7 linked regions of the Homo sapiens genome follow. The protein of the gene in region 4 purifies or fractionates together with the protein of the main gene of each other region. This does not show direct contact. Each region holds a gene or a part of one and is shown on either strand. Other genes may lie near its edges. The genes, in order: DMKN, PPL, SERPINB3, RBM24, SERPINB13, ANKRD40 and CALML5.

The links.
Region 1: the proteins of RBM24 (region 4) and DMKN purify together in Homo sapiens (affinity purification with mass spectrometry; 2 studies listed by BioGRID and IntAct, with this or other methods). This does not show direct contact.
Region 2: the proteins of RBM24 (region 4) and PPL purify together in Homo sapiens (affinity purification with mass spectrometry; 3 studies listed by BioGRID and IntAct, with this or other methods). This does not show direct contact.
Region 3: the proteins of RBM24 (region 4) and SERPINB3 purify together in Homo sapiens (affinity purification with mass spectrometry; 2 studies listed by BioGRID and IntAct, with this or other methods). This does not show direct contact.
Region 5: the proteins of RBM24 (region 4) and SERPINB13 purify together in Homo sapiens (affinity purification with mass spectrometry; 3 studies listed by BioGRID and IntAct, with this or other methods). This does not show direct contact.
Region 6: the proteins of RBM24 (region 4) and ANKRD40 purify together in Homo sapiens (affinity purification with mass spectrometry; 3 studies listed by BioGRID and IntAct, with this or other methods). This does not show direct contact.
Region 7: the proteins of RBM24 (region 4) and CALML5 purify together in Homo sapiens (affinity purification with mass spectrometry; 3 studies listed by BioGRID and IntAct, with this or other methods). This does not show direct contact.

The regions. Positions count from the first base shown.
Region 1 is NC_000019.10:35,496,409-35,500,408, forward strand, and holds the end of DMKN (dermokine isoform 2 precursor), read right to left. Parts: coding exon of another isoform or gene 3,970-4,000; intron 3,622-3,969; coding exon 3,550-3,621; intron 2,490-3,549; coding exon 2,466-2,489; intron 2,356-2,465; coding exon 2,308-2,355; exon of another isoform or gene 2,190-2,307; intron 1,274-2,189; exon of another isoform or gene 1,239-1,273; intron 1,131-1,238; 3' UTR 812-1,130; downstream 1-811. UniProt on the Homo sapiens protein: May act as a soluble regulator of keratinocyte differentiation.
Region 2 is NC_000016.10:4,884,802-4,888,836, forward strand, and holds part of PPL (periplakin), read right to left. Parts: intron 3,418-4,035; coding exon 3,301-3,417; intron 2,427-3,300; coding exon 2,334-2,426; intron 1,247-2,333; coding exon 1-1,246. UniProt on the Homo sapiens protein: Component of the cornified envelope of keratinocytes. May link the cornified envelope to desmosomes and intermediate filaments. May act as a localization signal in PKB/AKT-mediated signaling.
Region 3 is NC_000018.10:63,654,584-63,659,315, reverse strand, and holds the end of SERPINB3 (serpin B3), read left to right. Parts: intron 1-685; coding exon 686-803; intron 804-1,903; coding exon 1,904-2,046; intron 2,047-2,329; coding exon 2,330-2,485; intron 2,486-3,254; coding exon 3,255-3,659; 3' UTR 3,660-4,119; downstream 4,120-4,732. UniProt on the Homo sapiens protein: May act as a papain-like cysteine protease inhibitor to modulate the host immune response against tumor cells. Also functions as an inhibitor of UV-induced apoptosis via suppression of the activity of c-Jun NH(2)-terminal kinase (JNK1).
Region 4 is NC_000006.12:17,284,275-17,288,309, forward strand, and holds part of RBM24 (RNA-binding protein 24), read left to right. Parts: intron 1-382; coding exon 383-437; intron 438-4,035. UniProt on the Homo sapiens protein: Multifunctional RNA-binding protein involved in the regulation of pre-mRNA splicing, mRNA stability and mRNA translation important for cell fate decision and differentiation. Plays a major role in pre-mRNA alternative splicing regulation.
Region 5 is NC_000018.10:63,593,484-63,597,518, reverse strand, and holds part of SERPINB13 (serpin B13), read right to left. Parts: intron 3,494-4,035; exon of another isoform or gene 3,345-3,493; coding exon of another isoform or gene 3,281-3,344; intron 3,165-3,280; coding exon 3,022-3,164; intron 2,491-3,021; coding exon 2,335-2,490; intron 561-2,334; coding exon 156-560; 3' UTR 1-155. UniProt on the Homo sapiens protein: May play a role in the proliferation or differentiation of keratinocytes.
Region 6 is NC_000017.11:50,697,741-50,701,775, forward strand, and holds part of ANKRD40 (ankyrin repeat domain-containing protein 40), read right to left. Parts: intron 2,977-4,035; coding exon 2,828-2,976; intron 2,154-2,827; coding exon 1,659-2,153; intron 1-1,658.
Region 7 is NC_000010.11:5,497,950-5,501,348, reverse strand, and holds CALML5 (calmodulin-like protein 5), read left to right. Parts: upstream 1-1,778; 5' UTR 1,779-1,910; coding exon 1,911-2,351; 3' UTR 2,352-2,652; downstream 2,653-3,399. UniProt on the Homo sapiens protein: Binds calcium. May be involved in terminal differentiation of keratinocytes.

The sequences.
Region 1 (4,000 bases), on a different chromosome or scaffold from region 4:
CTGTAATCCCAGCACTTTGGGAGGCCGAGGCGGGCGGATCACGAGGTCAGGAGATGGAGATCATCCTGGCTAACACGGTGAAACCCCGTCTCTACTAAAAAATACAAAAAATTAGCCGGGCGTGGTGGCGGGCGCCTGTAGTCCCAGCTACTCGGGAGGCTGAGGCAGGAGAATGGCGTGAACCTGGGAGGCGGAGCTTGCAGTGAGCGGAGATCGCGCCACTGCGCTCCAGCCTGGGTGACAGAGCGAGACTCCGTCTCAAGAAAAAAAAAAAAAGAACAGTATTCAAGCCGGGCATGGTGGCTTCCGCCTGTAATCCCAGCAACTTTGGGAGGCTGAGGCGGGTAGATCACCTGAGGTCAGGAGTTCAAGAACACCCTGGCCAACATGGTGAAACCCCATCTGTACTAAAGATACAAAAATTAGCCAGGTGTGGTGGCGCATGCGTGTAATCCTAGCTACTCAGGAGGCTGAAGCAGGAGAATTGCATGAATCCAGGAGGCGGAGGTTGCAGTGAGCCGACATCGTGCCACTGCACTCTAGCCTGGGCCACAGAGTGAGATTGAGTCTCTAAAAAAAGAATGGTATTCAGATATAGGTTGGGCAATGATTTTTTTTTTTAACAGATGAGGAAACTGAGGCACAATGCAGGCTTCTTGTCAGAAATAAAACCCAGGTCTCATCTCTCTCAGCCTCTGTGCTTTATACCAGTTTCAGGCAGAAGGCAGATTAGCTGCCCCTGAATCACTCTTCCATCCTCCCTGAGCCAGGCCATCAACATAGCATTAAAGAATAAAATTTGAGAAAGTCGTAGGGAAACAAGATTCATGTTTTATTTCCACAGAGAAACTCAAAAGTAGGAAGCTCCTCCTTCCTGGAGAACTGTCACAGTGACTTCAGGTCACCAAAGGGAGGAGGTACAGAAAGATGCTGGTGTATGTGACGAGGCTGGTGGCCACTGAAGCACCACAGTGCAGTGGGAAGAAACAAGGAGAGACAAGCTGGGTCCCCAGCCTAGGAAACAGAGGTGTGGCAGCCGGGCCAGGGCTGGCACAGGCTGGGGGCCAAGGGGAGGAGCTCCCTGACGACCAGTGCTTTTCGGGGCCTCGGTGGTGGTTGCAAGAAATTGCCTAGAAGAAAGAAAATCAAATGGTAGCACGTGGCCACTCCTAAGCCTGCGGAAACGGGGCATCTTTTCACCCAGCGTCTGGGCACCCACCATTCTTTTGCTGTCCTACCTGTTCGCCTGTGGTGCCCCTCACTTTTGCTCCGCCTAAAACAGAGTTTGTGGTTCTGCCGAGCCAAGCTATCACCTCTCGCCCATGCAGCCTCGCTGCGTCCCACCTCTGAACCCTTCCACCAGGAGGCTCTTTTCTCCACAGTTCCCCTGTAACATCTCTATCCCGGTCCCTGTGCTCCATCTAGAACACCATCTTCTCAGAGCTGTGCCTATGTGGTCCCACCCTAAGGTGCTTTCCGAGGGTCCTAGGTCATTTTCTTTCTTCTTTCTCTCTTGCTTGCTTTCTTTCCCTCTTTCTCTCTCTCTCTCTTTCTCTCTTTCTTTCCAGACAGGGTCTCCCTCTGTTGCCCAGACTTGGAGTGCAATGGTGTGATCATAGCTCACTGCAGTTTTGAACTCCTGGGCTCAAGCGATCTTCCTGCCTCTGCCTTCCAAGTAGCTAGAACTACAGGCATGTGTCACCATGCCTGGCTAAGGTTTTTCATTTGTTTGTTTGTTTGTTTTGAGACAAGGTCTCACTGTGATTGCCCAGGCTGGAGTGCAGCGGTGCAATCGCAGTTCGCAGCAGCCTCAACCTCCCAAGCTCAGGTGATTCTCCCACCTCAGCCTCCAGAGTAGCTGGGATTACAATCATGCACCACCTCACCTGGCTAATTTTTTGTATTTTTAGTAGACGGGGTTTTGCCATGTTTCCCAGGCTGGAATGGTTTGTTTTGTTTTGGTTTGTTTTGTTTTGTTCTTTTAGAGATGGGGTCTTGCTATATTGCCCAGTCTGGTCTCAAACTCCCAGACTCAAGTGATCCTCCCACCCCAGCCTCCCAAAGCACAGAGATTACAGGCATGAGCCACTGCACCCAGCCCTAGATCACTTTATTATGGGTCTTTCTCCACACCCCACCATGAGGTCCCCTCTTCCTTATCACCTTTAGAGCACGCACCCAGAGCATACCTGACTTCATGTCGCTGCCCACTGAGATCTGAGGATATACCAAGATCCTGGCCCTGCCCCGGGTGACTGTGCCTCCACTGCCAGGATGTGGCCTGGGTCGGCTCACTCTGACACTCACCTACCAAAACTTCACCCACTGCAGCAGGCCAGGTTGCACCCGGGAAGCCTGCCAGAAAAAGAGAAAGTCTGAGTGGCCACCACAGGGTCCCTTCCATACCCTCTGGCCTCAGGCCCCTTCTCTCTCCAGCCAGATGAAGATCAGGCCCCCATACTCACCGAGGAAGAAGGTGAGACTCCCCCCTGCAAAAAGATCAAAGGAAAGTGATGTGGGGTCATGGCCTCCCTGTACTCTGCCATGGCCTCCACGCTCATGAAGGGCCCAGCAGCAAGGGCAGGCTCACACCAGGGCTATCACCAAGGTTTTCCAGTCTGACTGTGGACATTCAGGCTGTGGAGTTGGTTTCACAGCACGTTTATCATCCTGAGTGCACTTGATCCAAGATGATATTGAACATGGTTCCTGGGCACGTACTGACCAAGGGGGTCAAAAGAGCATAGGCCTCGCTTTGGCCTGCCAGGTAGGGAGACACTGACCACAGATAACCCGGCAGAGTGGAAGCCACAGATAACTCAGCAGAGTGGAAGCCACAGGCAGTAGAAGCTGCATGTCCCTCCTCTCACCAGCCTGTAGTTTCTCGTCCCTCAGTGGAAGGTCCTCTCCCCAAGGGCGGGGACTTTATTGTCATGAGAGATGGAAATACACAGCCTGCTGTTGCTTTGTCAGCCAAATTTGTACTTAGCATATTCATTTACTGATGTTATGAGATTGCCTTCTTTGCAACGGAATAAAACCAAATTCTCACGTATTTTTTCTTTTCATTTCCTTTGTGGAATAAAGCATTCATTTCACCGCCAACCAGGCATCCACAGGCCGGCCTCCCCTAAGTGCTAGTCTGCTTTCCTCGCCCTCCATTCCATCTTCCCCCGCAAAAAAAGGTCCACAGAGAGGGAACCTGTGAGGAAGAGCTGCTTGCGTGTTTTGCAGGTGTCATGATTTTTTAAAGCCTATATTCTTCTTGGAGAGGGTGTTGGTTCTCAGTTTTCTCTGTTGCTGCTGCTGCTCCTTTTTAACCTTTTCTGACTGGGTGGGTGTGAGGCGCATTGAACCCTCCTGCCCTCCACTTCCAAACTGTCTCAGGGAACCCGAGTCTCCCTTGCAAAGGGGTGGGGAGGCCTGGACTCAAAGAGAGCGGGATCCGGCCTCCGGCAACCAACCGAGAGGACCCCGGCAGTGAAAGCCTCTCTCCCCATCCCTCATGCAGAGCCCCCAGCGGGAAGACAGGGTGGTTGCCGGTCTCACCTTTGCAGGGGTCTTGACTGAGTACTTCCCACCATAGGCAGTGGGATACGCATGCTGGTTGTAATTGTAGTTCTGTGGAAGAAGTGGGCATGGCGGTTAGAACAGACGGACGAAGGCCATTTTGCTCTGGAATAAACATCCCACCTTCCTGCCTGGACCAGACCTTTCCTAAAACACCTGCCTGCTCCCCTCCTTGTGTCACGTGTTTTCTTTTATACAATCTCCTCCAGCCAGCCAGGGCCCCCACCCTCACCTGCCTTTACTGTCCTAGCCCAAATGGCCGCCGCCTCCTCCTCCTACTCCTCCTCCTGCCCTCAAGACCTCTGCCAACTCTTCAAGTGTTACTTGGGAGGTGAGGGTAGGAGACCAAGAAAAGAAGTGCCAGGACGTAACCCAGCGGGTCCATGGTAGATGTCTCACCTTGGAAGTTACAGCTGCCACCTCCTGCCAT
Region 2 (4,035 bases), on a different chromosome or scaffold from region 4:
GGGGTTTGGTGTCTTTCAGGGCCTGGATTTCCTTTTTCAGCTGGTAGATCTCTAAATCACACCTTTCGATCAGTCTGGTCTTGTCCACGATCTCCTCCCTGAGCCGCTGAAGCTCCTTCTCCATCTCAGGGTCAGTCTTGTACTTAATGACTTCCTTAGTCACCTCTTTGACTTCCACCTGGGGGCCTCGCCTCCTGAGGGCCTCCAGCTCACTCTGGTAGCTCCGGAGCTGCTCCTCGGCACCCCGGTACTTTCGCTCCTGCTCCACAAGCTCCAGGCGGAGGTTCGCCACTTCACTTTCCGCCTTGGGGTCTGGCCGCACGATCTCCCGCACCTTCTCCTGCACCACCACTTTGGCGTTCTCCTCCTCCAAGGCCCATATCTTTCGGAGCAGCTCCGTCTTCTCCCTCTGGCTAGCGCGAGCCTTGGCAGCCTCGTCCTCATATTGGCGGGTGAGATCGCTGACCTCCCTCTCGGTGGCCGCGTCCTTCTCCACCTTGAGCACCTCCTTGACGGTGATCTTGCCCTCGGCCATGGCCCGCTCCTTCTCTAGCCTCTTGAGCTTGTCCTGGAGGAAGCTCAGCTCCTCCTCCTGCTTCTCCCTGAGCTGGTCCTGGCGCTGGTGGTCCTCCTGCAGCTGCTGGTACTCTGCCTCCAGCTGGGGGTCATTCTGCAGTTTCACCACCTCTTTCTCTGTGACCTTCTCCTGCGCCCGGCTCTTCTCTTCAGCCAGGGCGGCCACACGCTGCTGCAGGAGGAGCACCTCTGCCTCCCGGGCGCCCTTCTGCCGCCTCAGTGCCTCCAGCTCCTCCCGCAGCTGCAAGACCTCATCCGCCTGGGCCCTGTCAGGCTCGATGCGCAGGACCTCCTTGACCACGTACTCCTGCCCCCCGTCTCTGGTCTCCTGCTCCAGGGCACGCAGCTGCAGCTGCAGTGCCTCCAGCTCCTCCTGCAGCAGCTGGTTCTTGTGCTGCTCCTCTGCCAGCGTCCGCTGCAGCTGCTGGAAGCTCTCCTCCAGCACGGGATCCGGCACCTTCTTGAGCACCTCCTTCCTCACCACCGATTCCTGAGGCCCCTGATTCCTCAAGGTCCAGATTTCTTCCTGGGTGCTCTTGACCTCGTTCTCCAGCTGCCGCCTCCGCTCAGTCTCCTCATCCAGTTCCTTCCTGATCTTCCACGCCTCCTCCACTCCAGAGTCCGGCCTATTCCTTTGCAGGGTCTCATGGGTCACTTCTACTTCCGGCTGCTGTGATGGAGAAGACAAGACAAGGTTAAAGCCAGGCTCTGGCAGCACATGTAGGGCCTGTCCCCACCTGGTCAGAGTGGCTGTCCTGTGGTCCCCAAGGGACTCCCTCAGTGCCAGTTCATGTTAGTTGTAGAGTTCTAGGGTTACTTTCAAAAAGGATCAAACAACTAGTTTGGGGTTTTTTTTAATCAGGTAAAACATTTTTGAGCTGTGGAAGAGTTTAAAATGAAACCACGGTCTCCCACCTCTGGTCCCCGTCCTAGGGCGTGTCTGTCAGCCTTGCAGATGCTATCTGTGCTCACACAAGAATATCTGTCTGTAGTATGTACCATGTGTTTATCTCTCCTGCACAAATGGTATTCCTGCTGCTCACTGCACTTACAGAGCTCATTCCAGCTCAGCACAGAGAGTGCTGCTTCAGGATTTACCAGCAGCATTGTTTCCGCTCTCTGGACAGACCGCAGTTTAGCCCATTGCTGATGAAGAGTGAACTGCTTCCAGTGTCTTGCTATTAAAAAACAATGCTGTCATCAACATCATGGACTTCAGAAAATAACATTCACTTTCTTTTGTTTCTTTCTTTTTTTCTGAGACAGAGTCTCGCTCTGTTGCCCAGGCTGGAGTGCAGTGGCACAGTCTCAGCTCCCTGCAACCTCCACCTCCTGGGTTCAAGCAATTCTCCTGCCTCAGTCTCCTGAGTAGCTGGGATTACAAGCATGCGCCACGACGCCCAGCTAATTTTTGTATTTTTAGTAGAGACGGAGTTTTACCATGTTGGCCAGGCTGGTCTCGAACTCCTGACCTCAGGTGATCCGCCTGCCTCGGCCTCCCAAAGTGCTGGGATTACAAGCGTGAGCCACCATGCCCAGCTGAAAATAGCATTCACTTTCAGCAGATGTTTACTGAGTTGAATAAGTTCTCATGTCAGTAGAAGCATTGGCTCGGGCCAGTCTTTGCATTGGCCCTGCCCAGAAACGTTAGCAAGGGGACACTTCCATCAATTCACAAACCATTTCTCTAAGACAGAGTCTGTATTTGTCACCTGTTAGAACAGCCTGAAGTAGAATTTCTTACTAAGATCAGTTACCTGTCTGAGGAGATTCAGAGCAAACTCCAGATTCTGCAGCCTCTGTCTGTTGATGGCATAAACTTCAGTGAACTTGGCGGCAAGTGCTGCTTCCTGCAGAGAAGAGGATTAGGAGAGCGGTCAACAAACAGGTGTCAACAGGGTAAGCAACAGAGAGCTAGACAGCGTGGACGTGGTTCTTGAGAAGTGTGGAATTTGGGGGTAGAGGCATAGCTCTTGCCCACTCCTGCCTGGAGTTAGACTGTAGCCTCACCGGTGGAGAGAAAAATGGATCTCGAGGCAGAAGATCCAGGCCAGGGTCTTGGCCACACTGACTTTGAGCAAGTCTTTCTGCCTCTTAGAGCACCAGTGTTCTCTCTTGTGTGTACAGGAGACTAATATCAGCCCTCCACTGTACTTACTGAGGTGAGCAAAACAGGAACTTCCCAGATCCATGGTTCTGACCCTGACACTTCTGTTCAGCTGCATTTTCAAAAATTTTTATTTCTTAAAGACAGAATCTCTTTCACTCAGACTGAAGTGCCATGGTGTGATTGTAGCTCACTGCAGCCTTGAACTCCTGGGCCCAAGTGATCCTCCCTCCTCAACCTCCCAAGTAGCTGGGACTACAGGTTTGCACCACCACGCCTGGCTAATATTTTTGTAGATATGGGGTCCTGCTTTGTTGCCCAGGCTGGTCTCCAACCCCTGGGCTCAAGCAGTTCTCCCACCTCGGCCTCCCAAAGTGCTAGGATTACAGGTGTGAGCCACTGCGCCCGGCCTTGCTGTCTTTCTAGGCATATTGATGTCACTGCCCTAGAACAAGTTCCTCATCTCTTACCAAACCTGTTTGCATGCAGGAGGGCTCTCAGTGGCTTCCCTGTTGTGTGTGCATCTCTGAGGCCAGCGTGTGACACCATGCTCCCTGGGGAGCAGGGCAGCTTGGCCTCCACCTCAGTCCCGAGGCCGCCTGGCCCATGGAACTCACCTCTTCCTTCACTTTGGTGGCAGGAGATTGGAGCCTGGCTCTCTTGCTCACGTGGCTTCTCCTTCCATTCTCCAAGTCGAGAAGAGACCTTAGTTTTTCTGCTTCTAACTCATAGTCCTGCATGAGGGAGAGACATGGCAGAGGGGAGATTAAAACAGCTGAGAAGAGACAGACATGTTCCTGTACCCCTTCAGGCTGACCCAGACCTGCCCTGTGCCATGTGCTGGTTTTATAATCTGCGTGGGTCTTCCTCACAGCTGCACCCTGCAGTGATTTCCAGGAGGTTTTGAGAATTACTGATATCTCAGCAGTACATAGCTCCATCACTCAGTAACATATGAGACAAGAAGTGCCCCCTGAATTCCCCTCCCAGCCTTTCTACATGCCTAGAGATTTTCACATTCTGCTGCTGCTTTTAACATCGTACCATAACCCTGTCTCACCTTGCCACCACCTCTTCTCATGTTTACCAGCTTGCTGACTTTATAATCCATCAGGTGGATGTGTGCTGATTCACGCAGCTTTCCCCTTCCACTGGACACCAGTCCTTTCCAGCGTACTAGTTTTGCTATTGTAAATAGTGCTGTTGCAACAATGTTGTTTATCCTGCATTTTTTTTTTTGTACTTTTTCCTTAAGGATAAATTCCCCCAAAGTGTTTACTGCTTCAGAGTATAAAACCCTTTTACAGCATTCCATGTCTAGTACCATGCTGTTTTCCCAAAAGCCTGTGCCA
Region 3 (4,732 bases), on a different chromosome or scaffold from region 4:
ATGAGCCTGACCGATCCAGGTGGAGAGCATTTACTCAGAGTGCAATAGCTCCGTTTCCACAACTCTCCCCCACTGGAGTGTCCCAGACCCTAACAATACATCACTGAAGTGTGGATTTAGGGATAATCTTGTAATAAAAGAGGAGGTTGGGTAATAGAGTGAGTAAGAGTAATAAGTAATAAGATACCATCGATAAACTGGCACTGACTCAGTCACATACGATACATCTTGGTGGGAAATGTATGACTAATGGGATATTATTGGAATGGGCAGGCTTGGGTGAGTTCCTGAGAATAGTTGAGGAAGTACCAGGAAATACTGAATGCACAGGATGAAAGATAAAAACAAAGATCAGAAACATCATGGTTGAAATTACTGGAAAGAGGTCTGAGAAGCAATGAATCTCCTTCAGGGAAGCCTGCTCTGCAGTTTGCAAACCACAGCCTCTTCTGCTTCTGCCTTTTGCCAGATGATATTGACCTTCGGTGACCTCTTTCTTGCGCCAGCCCGCACTCCGCTTTTGCATTGCCTACATGGCACCAGTATAAAAATATGCATGGACAGGAGATACTGCATCTATTCAGGGTCTGGATTCAGCTTACTATAATTATAAATAACTAAATTTGGTAATATATAGTTACATAAATTACTCTTACTTCCTACTTTCTTCCTTCATATCTCAAAGGAATATTTAGATGCCATCAAGAAATTTTACCAGACCAGTGTGGAATCTGTTGATTTTGCAAATGCTCCAGAAGAAAGTCGAAAGAAGATTAACTCCTGGGTGGAAAGTCAAACGAATGGTAGGAGAGCCACCCATTATAGAAACACCTTTGAGAAATCTATGCGAGTGAGCCCTATGCCTGAAACTGCATGGGGGACCATGGGTGGGAATTGAGATGGCTTTGCAGGGAGGGAAGAAGAGGGCACTCCAGATGAAGAGTTTTTCCAAATGATTATGAAGAGAGCCTAGGGGAGCCAAGGAGGAAATCACAGGAAGCCAATTAGAAGAAAACATAGCCGGAGGATTCTTTGCTCATGTTCCTGGATGACAATAGCTTTGTGGATCCCTTGTCTCCACTCAGGTCCAATTTGAGATCATGTCCTTTACTTTAAATCAGAACCAATATTTTATGATGAATATTTAAAAGGAAACATTAGAAAGCATCTCCCTTCCCCTTTACTAATTGGGAAACAAGCAGCTCTCTGGTAAATCACCCTTTTGCCATCTGAACTAGAGCTGCCTGGATCACATCTCTAGCCACAAGTTCTGCAGGGATTATCACAGCTCTCTTCCCCATCAAGGGCAAGAGCTTAACAAATTCTCCATTCTATAGACATCTATCCTACCTCCCACCTCTCATTACAGGCCAAACTTACAGCAACTCAACATGAGAGTGAATAGGAAGATACCCCCGGAAGTAGTGTCTGACAGCACAGGACATGCGTTTCATATTACAGAGCTCATGTCACTTGTCCTAAAAAGCAGTCAGGGCCTACTTCCTCTGAATGGGGACCCCGTAGTTAAAAAAAAAAAAAAAAAAGTAGGAAGAGGAGGGAGGGAGAAAGGAAAGACACATGTTGAAAGAGTAGACAAAATCAGTTTATCAGTATTCCAAATCAGATGAATGGACTCATTCATACACAGAGAACGTGAACTCCTTCTCTATCACAAGAAGTGATGTCTCCATTAAGGGCAACTTTATACGACTGGAGCCTTGAAGAAAGCTGCATCTGGTGAACCACTGGTCAGTGAGTCTAACAATTCAAAGATCAAAGTCAGTGAGTCTCAAGTAGGGATTTGGGTCAATAATTAACGATCAGTCACGAACATTTGCAAAGCATCTTCCAGACAAGCCATTTGTAGCTTGTGTAAAAGACTCTTTTATTCTTTCCCTTGCAGAAAAAATTAAAAACCTAATTCCTGAAGGTAATATTGGCAGCAATACCACATTGGTTCTTGTGAACGCAATCTATTTCAAAGGGCAGTGGGAGAAGAAATTTAATAAAGAAGATACTAAAGAGGAAAAATTTTGGCCAAACAAGGTATTGTCTATATTTTATTTATATAATGTAATATGTTAATAAATTTAAACATTTCTGATGGAATGTACCATGACAAGTAAAAAATAAAATTGTTCATGTCTGTTTTTTTGTTGTTTTAGTCTTATAACTTTATTTAGTTAGGAATTCCTGAAGAAGCTATTGTCTCTAACTCATTACATTCTTGGATTATTTCTTAAAAGAAGGATGTGTTGATATCTCAATAATATTATCTTTTTGCCTTGTGTCTCACTTGGTATTTGTTGGACACATTGATTTATTGTAGAATACATACAAGTCCATACAGATGATGAGGCAATACACATCTTTTCATTTTGCCTCGCTGGAGGATGTACAGGCCAAGGTCCTGGAAATACCATACAAAGGCAAAGATCTAAGCATGATTGTGTTGCTGCCAAATGAAATCGATGGTCTCCAGAAGGTAAGAACTTGCATCTACAACTCTTCCTTCTACTGCCTGACATTTTTCCAAAGATACCAAGTTTAAACAAGGTAAAAGCTGGTGACCGAGTTGCCTCAAAATAATGAAAAATTCTAAATGAGGAATGATGACTCACCTTCATATTACAAAGATTTAAGCATAGGGCCTGACACAAACTGAAGGCATAGTTAATGATTAATTTATTAGAGTTACATGCATTGGATATCAATTTAATGATATTATTATGCAGCAATTTAAACTTGACTGGGAGAAATATATAGCAATGTGAGGAAAGTTTACGAATACACCAAGTAAAAAAGGGAATAGAAATTTAGGAATTTGGGGAATTGCAATTTAATAATTGCAATGTGTACTAAATAATGTATACAGAAAAATAAGATGAGCCTATTAAAAATTGACACATGTAGTAGGCTGTTGGCACAAGAAATAGTGATATATATAGTTCATTGTGTACAAAATAATGTAATCATATTTTTACATGTGTATCATACAGTTGTATACATACATATGTACACATTACATATACATAAAAACTTGATTCTGTTTATACACATACACATATAACCCAATGTATTTATATATCCAGGACTCATATTTTGCCTATTAGAATAATAATATCTAATAAAGTGAACCTTCTGTATTTCACATTTGTTGCCAAAATAAGGATTCTCCACATAGTCAATTCATTGTTAAGGTGTATTAGAAATCAACAGTTAGTCATATCAGTTTCTTTTTTCCATTTGTATAGCTTGAAGAGAAACTCACTGCTGAGAAATTGATGGAATGGACAAGTTTGCAGAATATGAGAGAGACACGTGTCGATTTACACTTACCTCGGTTCAAAGTGGAAGAGAGCTATGACCTCAAGGACACGTTGAGAACCATGGGAATGGTGGATATCTTCAATGGGGATGCAGACCTCTCAGGCATGACCGGGAGCCGCGGTCTCGTGCTATCTGGAGTCCTACACAAGGCCTTTGTGGAGGTTACAGAGGAGGGAGCAGAAGCTGCAGCTGCCACCGCTGTAGTAGGATTCGGATCATCACCTACTTCAACTAATGAAGAGTTCCATTGTAATCACCCTTTCCTATTCTTCATAAGGCAAAATAAGACCAACAGCATCCTCTTCTATGGCAGATTCTCATCCCCGTAGATGCAATTAGTCTGTCACTCCATTTGGAAAATGTTCACCTGCAGATGTTCTGGTAAACTGATTGCTGGCAACAACAGATTCTCTTGGCTCATATTTCTTTTCTTTCTCATCTTGATGATGATCGTCATCATCAAGAATTTAATGATTAAAATAGCATGCCTTTCTCTCTTTCTCTTAATAAGCCCACATATAAATGTACTTTTTCTTCCAGAAAAATTCTCCTTGAGGAAAAATGTCCAAAATAAGATGAATCACTTAATACCGTATCTTCTAAATTTGAAATATAATTCTGTTTGTGACCTGTTTTAAATGAACCAAACCAAATCATACTTTTTCTTTGAATTTAGCAACCTAGAAACACACATTTCTTTGAATTTAGGTGATACCTAAATCCTTCTTATGTTTCTAAATTTTGTGATTCTATAAAACACATCATCAATAAAATAGTGACATAAAATCATTTTTGCTTTACATTTTCTCTCTGGAAAGGGAAAGTGTCCAGTTACACACAGGAAAGACAATTTAGAGATATATTAATCACAAACAAAGGAAAATTAAAAACAGAGTAGTTCATGATGAGCCTGGAGTAGAAGGCATATCCCAGAACAGGAGGAGCCTTGTAAACCACATTAGGAACTTCCTATTTTATGCTAAAGGGATAAGAAACTCATTACAGGCTTTGATGGTTGTTTGTCAAAGAGGGGCATAAAATTATCATATCTTCATCTTGAAAATACATCTCTGGTTACTCTGATATCAATGGATGAGAGGAAAGAACAGTGTGGTTACCATATATAAATCAGGAAATCATTAGAGTATTGGGGGTGGAAATGAAGAGAAAGAAACAGCCTGGCAGAATTATTTAGGAAGTAATAGTTAAAAAAAGACATCTAAGTTTCTGAGCTATCTGACTGGAAGGATGGAAGAAAATGTTGTTTTTGAGAGAAAAAAAAGACCATGGGTTTAAATTTGTACTTGATGAATTGAGGTACTTTTAATATTCAAATGAATTTGCCTGGCAGGTACTTGAAGATATTGATCTAAATCTCAGAAACAGAATATGATCTGAAGCT
Region 4 (4,035 bases):
CCCAGAACGTTCCAAATTACAAAGACTTTTCATAGATTCTGGTTCAAAACTGTGAGAATATTTGAGATGTAACTTCACTGTCAAATCCTGCTGTACTTAATTTTATTTCATGAACATTTTCCCAAGGTCTGATTCTGTGTCTGTCAACTAAAATTTGCAGATTTTTTTAAAGTTTTCACCTTTTCTCTGTTAAAACCTTTATTTTGAATCAATGATAGCATTTATAAAACTGACTTTAAAAAATATACATACATATAGTTTCTTTAAAGTGGCGAAAGAATGTTTATCTTTTATAAGTGAAAGTTGTGATTGCATTTTACATGTAGGAATAATAAATGCCTAACCATGCACAAATAAAGAATGTGGTATATTTTGTTGTTAGGTTTTGCCTTTGGTGTTCAACAACTTCATCCAGCCCTTATACAAAGACCTTTCGGGTAAGTTGATTAATCAGGCTTTCTTAAGTTTCAGTATGACTATCATTTGTTAACGTGCCTCTTTGTTATATACAGATAAGATCATGATGTCACAGAATGGTCCTAGTTATACAATTTTATATATATTTGTGCATTTTTAATGCTGATACTATAAATATTTTTAGATGAGTCAAGTTATCTGACCAAGTATGCAGCCTCCAAACGAGACAAATTTTGAGCTTATGATTAGCAAAACAAAACAAAAATACCAGGTATGACTTGTGTACAAGACGATTGTGTCCCATCACCATTACTACTGTTCGACTTGACTCAATTTTATTTATCTCTTTCTAACCTGACAGGGCTCGTATACAGTTAAGCTAACTGATCAGAAGGATACCATGATAAGAGGTGGAATAGTTCTGTTTGGAATTAAACTCTGTAACCAGTAGACTCAGACACACAAGCTCAGATGGTGATTAACGATGCATGGATGTTGGTGTTGTTGTTTTTATTTTTCACAATAGTCAATAGCCCTTCGTGTGCTTTATTTTATTTATTACAGTAATGAAGTGGTGTTGATAGCTAAACTGTGTGCTTTTTACTTAATTGAAAAGAGCTGTAGTGAAAGTGTTTTCTTTTCCTCGGGGAAGGGGCTCTTTGCGTTTTGATTTTGGTGGTGGTGTTGAGGGGTGTTGACTTTTGACTTTGCCATGGGAAGCAAAGGGCCTTTTTTTTTTTCTTGCTTTTAAGCTGTAGCCTGTGACTTCCATTTAACCACATTTTTGTAGTGAGTGCTAAATTGTGTGATTTCTCTTTGTCAGAATACAGATTCATTGCTTGCATGTCCTAAGTTTCTGTTTTATGGGAAATTTTCTGGGAATGGGGTTCTTTCTTTTGCAATGTGTATCCACTTTTAGGCCATCTAATTTAAAGGTTCAACAACTCTCATCAGATTTTATTAACACAAGCCAGTTTTTTTGAGTAGCGTCACACTAACTTTCACCTTTCAGATCTAACTCAGGTGAACACCTGTTCATATTTATGTTGTCTTTGGGTCCTGTGATTACCAGTTTTCCTGTTCCAAGGTCCTCATTTCTCTTCCTTTCAGAGGTTATATGGGTGGGAGATCACCCCTCGCCTCAATTTATCCTGGACACTAGATTCTGTTTTGGCTCTGTTCTACCTGATCAACATGCCTGTAACTCTAACGCAGGATACTTAAATTTTCTTTTTAAATGTTCATGTTGTTGAAAGAGTGTTTTATCCTCAATAATAATTTCTCCTCTAGCTTAGGACCTAAAACATCTACCTGTGTAACCTGGAAGGCTGGAATCTGTCTACATAGATAGATGTCTACCATATGTGTCTCTAAGAATAGATTTTAAAAAGAAATTAATAATAACTTGACTTGGAAGAGTAAAGTTATATTTCCCATGACCACCTCCTTACAACTCTAACATATCGGTACCTCACTGTTATTGCCAACTACTACTATTTTTTTTTTTTTTTTTTTAGCTGTGGAAGAGTCTTCTGTTCAATATGATCAGAAAGGGCCTTCCTATATCCATAGCTACTTAGCAAATCCCCATCCAAGCCAACCCAAATACTGAAAACAAGTGGTGGGTTGATGGGTTCAGCTATTTCTGTGGGTAATTCATTTAGACTTAACTGTTTAAGGTGGGATTAGGGAGGAGAGCATATATCTGAAGGTGTGATGTGAGCTTAGTGGTGGGCTCACACTAATAATCTTGAAACAGTTATAAAATTGAATCAATCAACAGGTAGTTGCATGTGTTTATTTTTTCACTGTGCCAGTGGGTGATGCAAAATGAGGGAATTGCACATTAGTTTGGGAAGCAAAAGTCATGCAAAAACCAGTCAAGAATTATTAATTTCTAAGTGACTTGGTATTGTTTCAAGTACAAAAGGAATTCAGAGTAGCAAGAAAATAGATGAAGTGGAGGAGTTGAATAAGGCTGTGGTGTGCATGGCAGGTAGACTGGCACTAGACTTGCACCACTGGGTATGTCTTAGGCAGGTAAAAGGAAGACTGGATATGTCTGGAGGGTATAGGATGGAGTGAGCCGAAGCAGAGGCATAGAGGAGAAGACTCAGTGCGTGGAGAAACCAGACTGTCTAAGGTGGGTCTTGAGAGCTGGGCATAGGAATTTGGACTGATTGTGGAAGTCCTTATAGATCAGTTCTTAAGAAAGAAGGTAACACAAGGAAAATTACAACCACCAGTGTAAGATGTGTCATGGAAATTTGAAAGCAAGTGTGTTTTGATAGCAACCTTTTGTTTTTCACCTCTTCTAATATTAACTGTCTTTATAAAGGATGGTGATTATTAGTGTGTGCATAAATTGTTTGAACTTGAGATTCTTATTAGAAATAGATAGCATTCCAGGTGGACCAAGTGAGCTTTCTCTTTCTTTTTTAAGAGGTTCTCAACACTGCTCTAATTTCAGAGTCTGTACCTAACAAATCACACCTGGTCATCCTAAATTCTGTTTGAATGCTACATGTTCCTATTTTAGGCCTGGAAAGAAACTTGAGAATTTCAAATTTGACTTGACTTACTTGAAATTCTAGTAACTGAACTGTTCCTTTGAATGTGGTCCTTAAATGGCCCCCAGGTGACTTTGGGCCTCTGTAGACAAAACCTTGGCCTAAAAGGAATTTCTGATGTAGCACAGTGGGCAGATGTAGAAAAACTTATAAACTTGCTAAACAATATTTTATAGTTTATGGTTGAAAGAAGCATTTCCTTATTGAAACCTTGGAAAGGGGAGGCTACAGATCTGTGAGTAGAAATTTCTGGGCTAGTGGCCAGGTGCGGTGGCTCATGCCTGTAATCCCAGCACTTTGGGAGGCCGAGGTGGGTGGATCATGAGGTCAGGAGGTTGAGAGGGCGAGACCATCCTGGCTAACACAGTGAAACCCCATCTCTAATAAAAATACAAAAAATTAGCTGGGCGTGGTGGTGGGCGCCTGTAGTCCAGCTACTCGGGAGGCTGAGGCAGGAGAATGGCGTGAACCCAGAAGGCGGAGCTTGCAGCGAGCCGAGATTGTGCCACTGCACTCCAGCCTGGGCGACAGAGCGAGACTCCATCTCAAAAAAAAAAACCAAAAAACAAATTTCTGGGCTAGTTTAGATGAGGTTGAACATACACTTAAACATTGACTCAGTACCCCTTTAAGTGCTCAGTTTTATGCTGGGTGTGGTAACACTGTGCTTAGTTTTTATAGTGTCCACTAAGGAGGGCAGGAGGGACTGTAACTAACACTAACCAAACATCTGCCATATGGATTGTAATGATAAGGGATTTACATAAATTACATAATTTAATTCTCACAGTAAGTGTTTGTTGAAGGCATTGTTAATATCTTTTCCAAAACTAAGACACAGAGAGGTTAATTAACTTCCCCCTGATCACAGGACTGCTAAGTGTTAGAGGCTGAGTCTAGATTCAGAATCATGGTCTGCCTGACCTCAGAAGCTGCAGTCTTTCCTCTTTGTCAAGCTGTAGCCCCAAAAGACAAAACTCTATTCTCTCATAATCCAGTAAGAAAGCCGATAAGCACCAAGAAGGGCTGTCCATGTGGCTTCAGATAA
Region 5 (4,035 bases), on a different chromosome or scaffold from region 4:
ACACATTATTGGAGTCATTAAATCATTGATTTGATGGCCAAGACTGGAAATGCAAGTGAGACAACATTTAAAAGAATGGACGATTTTCATAATCATATGAGTAACACTGGTAGTTGTTTTTTGCTAAAAGCAGCAATGCCATGGCAACGATCATCTTAAGGAGAAGAAAATCTGCCGAAGAAGAGGATGCTGTTGGATTCATTGTGCCTGATGAAGAACAGGAAGGGATGATTGCAGTGAACATTTTCATGACCTGGGGCGGATGTGACAGTAAAGCCTATGCCGGTGGCAGCTGCAGCCTCGGTGCCTTCCTCAGTTACTGCCACAAAGGAACTGTGCAGGAACTTCTGGGCGTACAACCCGGAGCCTGACGACATTCCCGAGTAGTCGGCTTTGTGCTCACTGAAGGCATCGCCCATCCCCATGGCAGCCAGGACCGCCTCTAGATCGTAACCGTCCTCCACCTCAAACCGGGGCAAGTGCAGATTCACCTTTCTTTCTTCCATATGCCCTGGACTAGTCCACTCTACCAATTTCTCAGGACTTATTTTATCTATTATCTATTTTCAAAAAAAGAAGAGTAGAATGGCATGATTATCAATAAAAATCTAAAACAGTGTAACACTGATTTGTGTCAGTCAGAAGTTATTAATTTTAGTAATATTAAAAGTAGAAATTTTATTTCACTAGATTGTTGTCTTTATACTGCAGGCGGTTGTCTTATATCTCTCTGTTTAAATTATCTGTGTATATGTGGAAATCCAATAGCATTGAATACATTTTTAAAGATTAAAAATAAGTCATTTCTTATTTTATCAACCTAGTATATATTTCATTTTAACTATCTCTCCTAGTCTTTGAATGCATATATATTTACATAGTTGCAATCACAGTGAATGTCCATTTTATTTGATAAAAAGTAAACTTTTTCACAATATTGCATATCTCTCCTATCTTCAAACAGCTAGATAATATTCTTATGAAGTTGATAAATTTTTCCCAATATTTAGCTATTCATTCACTTTACAAACATTTAGTCTTTATCAGGCATTGTGATAGATTTGATAGTTACTAAGGATACAAAATAATAATTACGATGAATTTCAAACTGGGCATTCCAGTGTATTTAATACCGAAATAACTGATTTTACTCAGAAAGGCAACTTTTTTCTTCTGCATTATTTCTTTAGAGTAATTCCCACAACTGGGGTTTTTGAATCAGAAATACTCTTAAAGCTCTCAGACATATTGCTATTTTGCTGTCTCAAAATATTTTCCAACTTAAAATGCTACTAGCAATATTTCACAGAAGTAGCACAGCATCTGGTAGTATAAGACGATAGCAGTTATCATTTGAGTGCTTTCTATGTCCTAGACCCCTTCTAGGCTACGTTTCTCTAATCATTCCAACACTGCTGCACGTTAACCACCATGGAGCCCTCTTCAGAGATGGGAAAGTATTGAAGTTCAAGGAAGTTAAGAAGCTTCAAGGGTCAGAAAGCCACTAGAGGAACAGGGATTTGAAACAAAACTCTCCTCATTTTCAAAATACAGGACACTAGCCACAATTTATTTATTTATTTATTTATTTATTTATTTATTTATTTATTTATTTAATTTTGAGACAGAGTCTCGTTCTGTCACCCAGGCGGAGTGCAGTGGCGCTATCTCGGCTCACTGCAAGCTCCACCTCCCAGGTTCACGCCATTCTCCTGTCTCAGCCTCCCGAGTAGCTGGGACTACAGGCGCCCACAACCACGCCAGGCTAATTTTTTGTATTTTTAGTAGAGACGGGGTTTCACCGTGTTAGCCAGGATGGTCTCGATCTCCTGACCTCGTGATCCGCCCGCCTCAGCCTCCTAAAGTGCTGGGATTACAGGCGTGAGCCACCACGCCCGGCCTTCACATAATTTTTTTAACCACAGAATGGATGAGACTAAATCAATGGTGTAAGAGTGTAAGAAAGAAATTCAAAAGCTCCAAAAGCCTATTGAACAGTGTGCAGAACTGGTTGTATATATGCATATGTGATTTCTTTTTTCCAGGAAAGGGGTCCATAGATACCAACCATTTCTCAGAATGGTGGGTGATCGTTAGGACTCCCATATAATCTTAAATGTTCATTTTAGTTCATCCCAAACATTCTAGGATTAGTTGTTCTCAATAAACCTGACCCATACTATTTAATGCTCCCCAGTAGACATCCATCTGTAGCTGCTGGAGAGTGAGAAACACTTTCTATTTGACACTGCTGGCCACCAGCTCCTACTCAGAAGCCCTGAGACAAAAAGCCTTAGGAAATGAAAGAAAGAATAAGGAGGTGTAAGCGTTTACCTTCTCCAGGCCATCGATGTCGTTGGGCAGAAGCACAAACATGCTTAGGTCGTTGTTTTTATATGGAATCCCTAGAATTTTGGCCTGCAAGTCCTCCAGGAAAGTGAAGCTAAAGGAATGGCTCTGTGTCATCATCTGTACAGATTTACTTGTGCTCTGCAACAAATTAACAGAGCACACAATATCAAAGGACATAAGACCAAAGGCATTAAGGCAACCAAGTTAGTTCATCAAAATAATTAGCTCAATCTAAAATAAAACCCAATATCAGAGTCTCAGAATGAGCATCCACTATCTACCAGTATGCATTTGCTCAAATATGACTTTAGATTTTTTTGGGGGGGTGGGGGATGGAGTCTCACTCTGTCACCAGGCTGGAGTGCAGTGGCATGATCTTGGCTCACTGCAACCTCTGCCTCCCGGGTTCAAGCAATTGTCCTGCCTCAGCCTCCCAAGTAGCTGGGACTACCGGCGTGCACCACCACACCCAGCTAATTTTTATGTTTTTAGTAGATACGGGGTTTCACCATGTTGGCAAGGATAGTCTCGATCCCTTGATCTCATGATCCACCCACCTTGGCCTCCCAAAGTGCTGGGATTACAGGTGTCAGCCACCACGCCCAGCCATGACTTTAGACTTTACATTCCATGTGTAAGCACATCACGAAAATAAACTAAGGGCCATACCTTATTCATCCAAAATTTCTCTTCCTTAGTATTTTCTTTCTTAAACTCCCTGTCCCATTGCCCTTTAAAATAAACCATGTTCACCAGCACCAGCTTGGTAGAGCTACTAATAGAGCCATCTGGGAACAAGTCCTTGATTTTTTCTGCAAATGAAGAAACAGAAAAAGGTTGACCCATCTTCCAAATGACAAATAATATGTATGACAAATATGATGCAGATGGACTTGACTGATCATTAAAAACCCAGCCAGGTCAGCACCTGAGGGCCTTGCTGACAAAGGGTTTGCTGGCAGAATCGACGGGGAGGTTCTCATTTTGCCCATCGCCTATTTATCCCAGTGGATAAATTAAGGTTCATGGTTAAGAGTCCAGACTCTGGGGTCAGATGCCTCTGTTAGCATCCAGTTTGCCTCTTATCAGCTGAGGAATCTTGGGCAAGTTATTTAAACTCTCTGTGCCTCAGTTTCCACATCTGTAAAATAGGAATAAAATCTGCCTCATAGGGTTGTTGAAAGGAACAAATGATTTAACACATGTAAAGCTATTAGAATACCATCTCACACATAATAAGCACTCTGTGTTAGCTATTATGCTTACCATTCAATATAGTTACCACCTGAGATTAAGGGATTACTTATTATATTGGAGAAGGAGTTGATATTTTTGTCTCTGAGTTCACCCCATCCCACAATAAATTCTAAAAAATACTGTTCAACTTTTTGAAAGATCCTATTTTTTCTGTTTCTTTTATTTCCTTTCTTCAGACCAAGCATGAGGGGAAAAAAAAAACACATTCTGAATAACAAAGTTCTCTCTGATAATTGGTATAAAAATGGAATCTGAAACTCTAACACTAAAGTATCAGCTATTGCTCCCCAAGGTGAATTTCCACATTAACATTTCTCTGTGGATTTCCCATACCAGGGGATGAGAAAGGAATAATGGGATAAGAAACTTGTCAAATCCTCTGCTGTGGGGAGAGCTGTAGGTTGTCGTTACCCCTGCACTATGCTT
Region 6 (4,035 bases), on a different chromosome or scaffold from region 4:
TGCCAAGACAGCCTGAGTCAAGCACCCTGTACATTTGGCAGTTCTGCTTTGTTCCCTGTATATGAATCCCTTGTAGCACCCCAGGTCACTGTTAGCACCTACAGTAGTAACTCCTCAAAAACAGGAAGTGAGAGAGTTACTTCCAGGAAAAAAGGAAAAGTAAGACTAGCTACACCCTATGGCATTTGACTGGATTTGGAAGAATCAGGATGAACTTGTGGTTTTTAATATTTTTAAAAAGTTATACATAGAGAAATATTGATATCTTTCCTGGCTATGTCCTCTCAACGGGCCTAGAAGAAATGATATACCTGTAGCAATGAGGACACCTAGTGACCACATCCTGGTGTCTGAATACCATTCTCGGTGGGCCCAAGTGGGAGGCAAGTTTGCTGTGTGCCCTAAATACCATTCTCCACCAAAAAGAACCAGGGCTTCTTGGAGAAATGACTGATTCCAGGGTTGGGGCAGGAAAAGTTATGCTATAAGCCCGGAACATCTTGCTGCCCCAGAAAGTAAGGCAGTGCTCCAAGAACAATGAAGACACATGCAAGGGACATAAGAACTAGCTTCAAGGGGCTCCCACTGGCCAAATCTGGGATAATTTGAATAATTAAAAAATGATAGTAACAGATTATAACCCACTGAATAAAATAAGAATATATGAGTCAATACTGATATGAATGAAGGAGAAGGGAAAGCCCTTCTTTACAGTAAAATACCAACTAATAAGTAGAGAAAGAATGATAGAAAATCATATCCCACAAAAATAATTGGCCTGGACTCTTCAAAAAGATCAAGATCAAAAATGATAAAGGGTAAAGATTCCAGATTAAAGGAAACTAAAACAACGTGATAACTACATGCAACATATGATCCTGGGCAGGATGCAGGGGGCAGAGGAGTACAGATAGTCCAGATAGATATCAATAGTACAGATAGTACTATTTCTGTAATAGTACAGACAGTACGTATAGTAGATGAGGGAATACAAAAGGCAATGTTTGAGACAACTGACAAAATTTAAACATGGTCTATGGATTACAGAACAGCATTAGCTCAAGATTACATTTCTCAAATTTGGTCATTTGTACTGTAGTTATATAAGAGAATATCCAGCTGGGTGCGGTGATTCACACCTATAATCTCAGCACTTTGGGAGGCTGAGGCAGGCAGATCACTTAAGGTCAGGAGTTTGAGACCAGCCTGGCCAACATGGTGAAACCCCATCTCTACTAAAAATACAAAAAAAAAAAAAAAAAAAAAAAATTAGCCAGGCGTGGTGGCATGCTCCTGTAATCTCAGCTACTTGGGAGGCTGAGGCAGAAGAATCACTTGAACCTGGGAGGCGGAGGTTGCAGTGAGCCAAGATCACACCACTGTACTCCAGCCTGGGTGACAGGGCGAAGCTACGTCTCAATAAAAAAAAGAGAGAATATCCTTGTTCTTAGGAAAGATATAATGGAAAGAATACTGAAGGGTATCAGGGTAAAAGGGCAAAAGGTAAACAATTTGTGAATTTGAGTAAAGGGAGTTCCTTATGTTAGTCATGTAACGTTTCTGTAAGTTTGCAATTATACCCAGAATACCTCATTAAATCCCACCCCTCTGGACACCAACTCCCCTGTTGCAGAGGCTGTTTGCTGATGAGGGGTTACCTTGCATATTAAATGGAAATGCTCCAGTGAAGAAAAATGGCTGGAATGCTGGCGCTGGTCCTGCATACGTCCCATTTTGAGGCTCCAGAGACATTGGTGGCTTGGACGGGACAGAAGAAAACAGGGAGCGGCTCTGACTCACTGGTGGCTGACAAACAGGACCCGGTTTTGTGCTTTCTGGTGTTCTGAGTATGGCAGAGGGGGCCGACACATCACCATTCTGAACTAGTGCCAAAGAGGTGTGGTCCCGGGGAAAGGTCCCTAACAGGGGAGGTTCCCCAGGGGGAAGCAATGGAGGTGAGCCATCTGCAGGGGGTGATGCAGGGGGTGTGGAGGGGCCCCCATTCTGCATCTGGGCTGAATCCTCTGCTGTGGGTGTATAGATAAAAGGGAAGGCTGGGTTGGCCAAATAGTTGGGAACAAAGGGCAGTTCTGACTCCTTCTTCAGCTGGGGGAGGTTGTCATCATCATCATCATCATCATCTTCTTCTTCCACTTAAAAAGAAGAAAACAGAACATTTACACAGTCCTTTCAAAATTATCAAAACAAGGTGTCTTTTGAAAGTGGTGTCTTTTGGTATGTGACATTGGTCAGTGTCAGGTCAGAAGAAAAAAGAATACTTCATTAGGTTTATGATTACCATTTTTATCATTATCTTAAATTTTACAAATAAAAAAATAAAACCTTACAATGCTGACCTCCCCAGAAACAATCTGGAATTACTATCTTGGCACAGTAATTTGCTTTTAGAAATAGAACAGTTGCCGGGAGCGGTGCCTCATGCCTGTAATCCCAGCACTTTGGGAGGCTGAGGCTGGCGGATCACCTGAGGTCGGGAGTTTGAGACCAGCCTGACCAACATGGTGAAACCCCGTCTCTACTAAAAATACAAAATTAGCGAGACGTGGTGGCACATGCCTGTAATCCTAGCTACTTGGGAGGCTGAGGCAGGAGAATCACTTGAACCTGGGAGGCAGAGGTTGTGGTGAGCCGAGATCACGCCACTGCACTCCAGCCTGGGCAACAAGAGCTAAACTCCGTCTCGGAAAAAAAAAAAAAAAGAAAGAAATAGAGCAGTTGTTTGACCAGCATTAAGAACGTAGCCAATAATACCACAAGTCTTCAATGAGTCTGAGGAAATCAAAAGTTCCCCCAAACACAGACTCACCTCCCATAATCTTCCTGATTTCTCTCCTTGATGTTAACTGGACTGGCATTTCTCCTTTTGTGGTAAGAATTTCTTTGTCAGCTCCTGATTTTAACAGGTAAGAGACCACCTGACCATGGTTTCGTTTACATGCCCAGTGTAAACAAGTCCTGTACCAAAGAAAATAATGATTGAAAAAGAGGAGAAGTGATTTTGGATTTCAGATTCTAAACATTAGTAAATAATGTATAAACAAGCCTGTTAGAGTTCAGCTAGAACCAGGTAACCGGGCTGGTAATCTCAACTTTTCACAAAGCCGATGAGCAAAATATTTAATATGCTTAAATTTTGTTTTTAAATTTCATTTCTGGCTCCTGAGAAAAACTAACTTAACCTAGGAGTTTTAATTTCAATAGCCTCCAGAAGGTAAGCTCACTGGCTGGCTAACTCCAATGATACCGTGGAATATACTCTATCAGTATCGCTCATTAGATCATCTCAGTCTCTGAAACATATTTTTCTATTGCTATATTCCTTTTCAGGGACTATGGAAACTCACTTCATATGCCACCTGAAGATTCAATATTATCAGGATAATAACCATCTCCTATCAGCAGCTTGCTCTGTCACTTAAATTATTATTATGACAGCAGATATTCTTGCCTGAATCCCAGTTGCTCACTTTCTTTTTCCTTCTTACTTTTCTTTCCTTAACACACACACAAAGGATTTCCAAATTTCCATTTTTAAAAAGTTGGCTTCTCTAGTTCTCTCCAGAAGGCTACAAACATATCCTCATCTGCGTAAATGTAAGGCACTGCACACATACTTTAATTCCTGAGGTACTTAAAAAATATACATCAACAACCAAAATTCTTCACGAACAGGTTCTTCTAACATATCAGACTCATTTAAGTAAAACTAATCACTCAATATTGTACACAGAGGAAGCAATTCTGCACACTCTGAAGGGCTACTATTTTAATACTGTACAGAAACATAATTAGCATGCCAGCAAAAACTCCATCTTAACAGAAATGAAAGATTCAGAGCAACTAAATCCATCCCTAGGTGCCAGAGCTGACTGTATATTATGGAAGGAAAATACTTTTCGCCTGTGTTTTGAAAGGTCTTCTTTCACCAACTCTCTAACTGAACTGAGATACATATCTTCAGAGCTCTTATAGCCAAATACAGAAATGAAGATTAGAACAAATGTTCAATATTGA
Region 7 (3,399 bases), on a different chromosome or scaffold from region 4:
AGGTGAGCTAGAAAATCTTCAAGCTATCTTTATAAAATGAGTTAGACAACTGGGACACTGCTCTCTGCATCTCTCTGTCTATGCTGGGTCCCCCTGAACTCCGGTGGGGTGACCCCCTTCCTTCCCTCTCCCTGCTGACCATGACCTTCCCTTTTGTACCTGGTCCACGGAGCTCCCTCTCTGCAGACCTCAGCCTCTCCCTCTGCTGTGGTGCTTCCGAGCCCTTTGCACCTCCCTCTGGCCCCTCACATGCAGCTCAGGGAGCAGCTGCCACACTAGGGCTGGCTGGGGCATCTTCCCTCCTCTCACTGCTCTGCCTGGTTTGCCCCTTGTGTGGTCCTGGGGGACTGAGCTGTGGGTCATGGAGTGCGTGGTTGGGCACCCCAGCCTCCGGCTTCCCTTGGAGAATGTGTGCAGCACCAAGGGGCTGGGAGGTGTTTGTCTGGCTGCACTTTAGGGAAGGAGAGGGCACTTGGTCTATTTGATGGGCTGAACAGGAGGGAGGTGGAATGTATAAACTTTCCCAGGGGAATAAAGGAGTTTGTTCCCTGTGTACGGGCAGGGGCTGGGGAGAAGAATGGGAATCTATGGAGATCAGAGGGGACTTGCTTGGGAAAGGCATTTTGGGGACTCCAAGGCAAATGTCCCCTCACAACTGTAGATCACATCAGTGGAAGGACTTGGGGATGGTCCCCCGAAAGCTTAGCTGTTGCTCTAAAAGTTGGTCAAGGCAAGTGGCCCTGGGGGTTTCCTTCCAGAGAACAGATCAGATTGAGGACCCCAGTAGGCTCCCAGATGGGTCTCTGTGCTTAGGGCTGATGCTTAGTAAAACCACAAGGAGGGCCAAGTTTGATGGCAGCCACCTGTTCTGCATCCTCCTGCACCTCTGCCTGCACCTTTGGGGTATGCTGGGCACTGAGGTCCCCCGTGTCTCGCTGCAGCAAAACTCCAGCTGTAACTGTTTGACGCCCTGTGAATGGAACGCCTGCCACTGAGCTCCCAGGGTGTCTGCACAGGGAACCTTGGACTTGGCGATGGAATTGAATTGTAGGAATCCCTGAGCTAGAAGGGAGTATTCTGGGGAGACAAAAAGTCTTTCCCTCTCCTCTGAAACTGCACGTCACATGTTCACTTGATAAACACCATCTCAGCACCAGCTATGGCTCTGAAGGCAGCCCTGGTCCCTTGCTTCCTTGAAGTTATAGGCAGTGAGCCCCATCCTCTGTCTCTAGACCCTGGCCTGGGAATCTCATGATACCCACAGTTGTGCCCTGGCAGAATCAACACTACCACCCACTTCCCTTCCACCAGCCCCAGCCTCAGGGCAAGAGCTAGGCAGTAGCACTGGAGAGAGGGGTACGGAAACACCAAACACTGGGGCCTGCTGTGCCCTTGAGGGAGCCCTCTTCAAGCCACCTCCCCCTCCAGTCTCAGTCTTTGTGAAGTTGCAGAAGCTGTCTTGAACCCCTTGGCTTGGTCAGGATCTCCGAGAATCAGCTGCAGGGGAAACTATCCCTTGGGCAGAATGTTCCTGGAGGGAGGTGGTTGCTATCAAGGCCAGGCGGGGTTGGCAGGCTAGCCATCCGATACCCCGACCCCATGGCAGTTCCCACCTGGCACCTGACAGCTCTCCCAACTCCCATTCCTGCATTTCCTGTCTGCAGCTGATCTGGCCCTCCCTGGGAGGAGGCTCTCACCCCAGGGCATTTGGAGGGTGGGGAGCCTCCCTCCTCCCTTTGTTCCGATTGCAGAAAAGGAGGGGGTTCCCATGCCAAGGCAGAACTGTCTGGGACAGACGCTGCCCGGATCCCTGCGGCTGCCTGCACTCTGGACCACGAGCTCTGAGAGCAGCAGGTTGAGGGCCGGTGGGCAGCAGCTCGGAGGCTCCGCGAGGTGCAGGAGACGCAGGCATGGCCGGTGAGCTGACTCCTGAGGAGGAGGCCCAGTACAAAAAGGCTTTCTCCGCGGTTGACACGGATGGAAACGGCACCATCAATGCCCAGGAGCTGGGCGCGGCGCTGAAGGCCACGGGCAAGAACCTCTCGGAGGCCCAGCTAAGGAAACTCATCTCCGAGGTTGACAGCGACGGCGACGGCGAAATCAGCTTCCAGGAGTTCCTGACGGCGGCGAAGAAGGCCAGGGCCGGCCTGGAGGACCTGCAGGTCGCCTTCCGCGCCTTCGACCAGGATGGCGACGGCCACATCACCGTGGACGAGCTCAGGCGGGCCATGGCGGGGCTGGGGCAGCCGCTGCCGCAGGAGGAGCTGGACGCCATGATCCGCGAGGCCGACGTGGACCAGGACGGGCGGGTGAACTACGAGGAGTTCGCGAGGATGCTCGCCCAGGAGTGAGGCTCCCCGCCTGTGTCCCCCTGGCTGCGCTCTGAGCCTTCAGGGCCACCGCCCGCTGCTGCTTTTGTGCTGGGACTCTCCGGGGAAACCTGGTCGGTGGATGGGAAACTGCCTCCCCCTGGGAGGAAGGCTTTGCGCTCCGGGGCCTGGATGCGGCGCCCTCGGGCCGCCTGCGAGCCCCTCTCTGCCTCCAGACCTTGGGCAGAAGGAGGCCTCCTTGGGCCTGGTCCCCCTTTGCCCTGCAGTGGAATGAGGGCCCCTCAGCCCCGCATTGATCTAAATAAAGGACTGCCGAGTTCCATGTGTGCTTGGTGTTTGTGGGGCGGCTGCCTCCGAGGGCCCCCACCTGCTTCCAGGGTTCCTTCCAGCCCACCCCTCTCACCTGCGGTGGCAGAACTGCCTGGAGCAGGCCCCAGGGGCAGCTCCTGCCTCCCCTGACGCGGAGCAGAGGGCAGGTGGGCAGAGGATGTGTGAGGATGGTGCTGGGCGGTGTCTGTGGCTCCAGGTTCTGCCTGAGCTGCTGGTGAGGACCTGGGCACGTGTCCCGCACAAACAGGAGCGGGCGCCTCGCATGGACAGACGGAGCCCAGCTGCCAGCCTCTGCACGCAGCCTGCCTCTCTTCGGCTGCAAATAATATACGTGTACGTCTGTGTGTGCATCTGTGTGTGTGTCTGTGTGTCTGTATGCGTGTCTCTGTATGTGTGCATCTGTGTGTAAGTCTCTGTATGTTTGTGTGTCTGTGTGTCCTTGTGTGCATCTGCATGTGTATGTGTGTATCTGTGTGTGTGTCTGAGTGTGTCTCTGTGTCTATGTGTCTGTGTGTGTCCATTTGTGTGTGTGTCTTATCTGTGTGTCTGTGTCTGTGTGTGGCTTTGTGTGTGTATCTGTGTGTGTGTGTCTCTGTGTCTATGTGTCTGTGTGTGTTTATCTGTGTGTGTCTGTGTCTGTGTGTGTGTCTGTGTATGTGTTTGTGTGTGTCTGTGTGCCTATCTGTGTGTGTGTGTCTCTGTGTCTATGTGTCTGTGTGTGTTTATCTGTGTGTGTCTG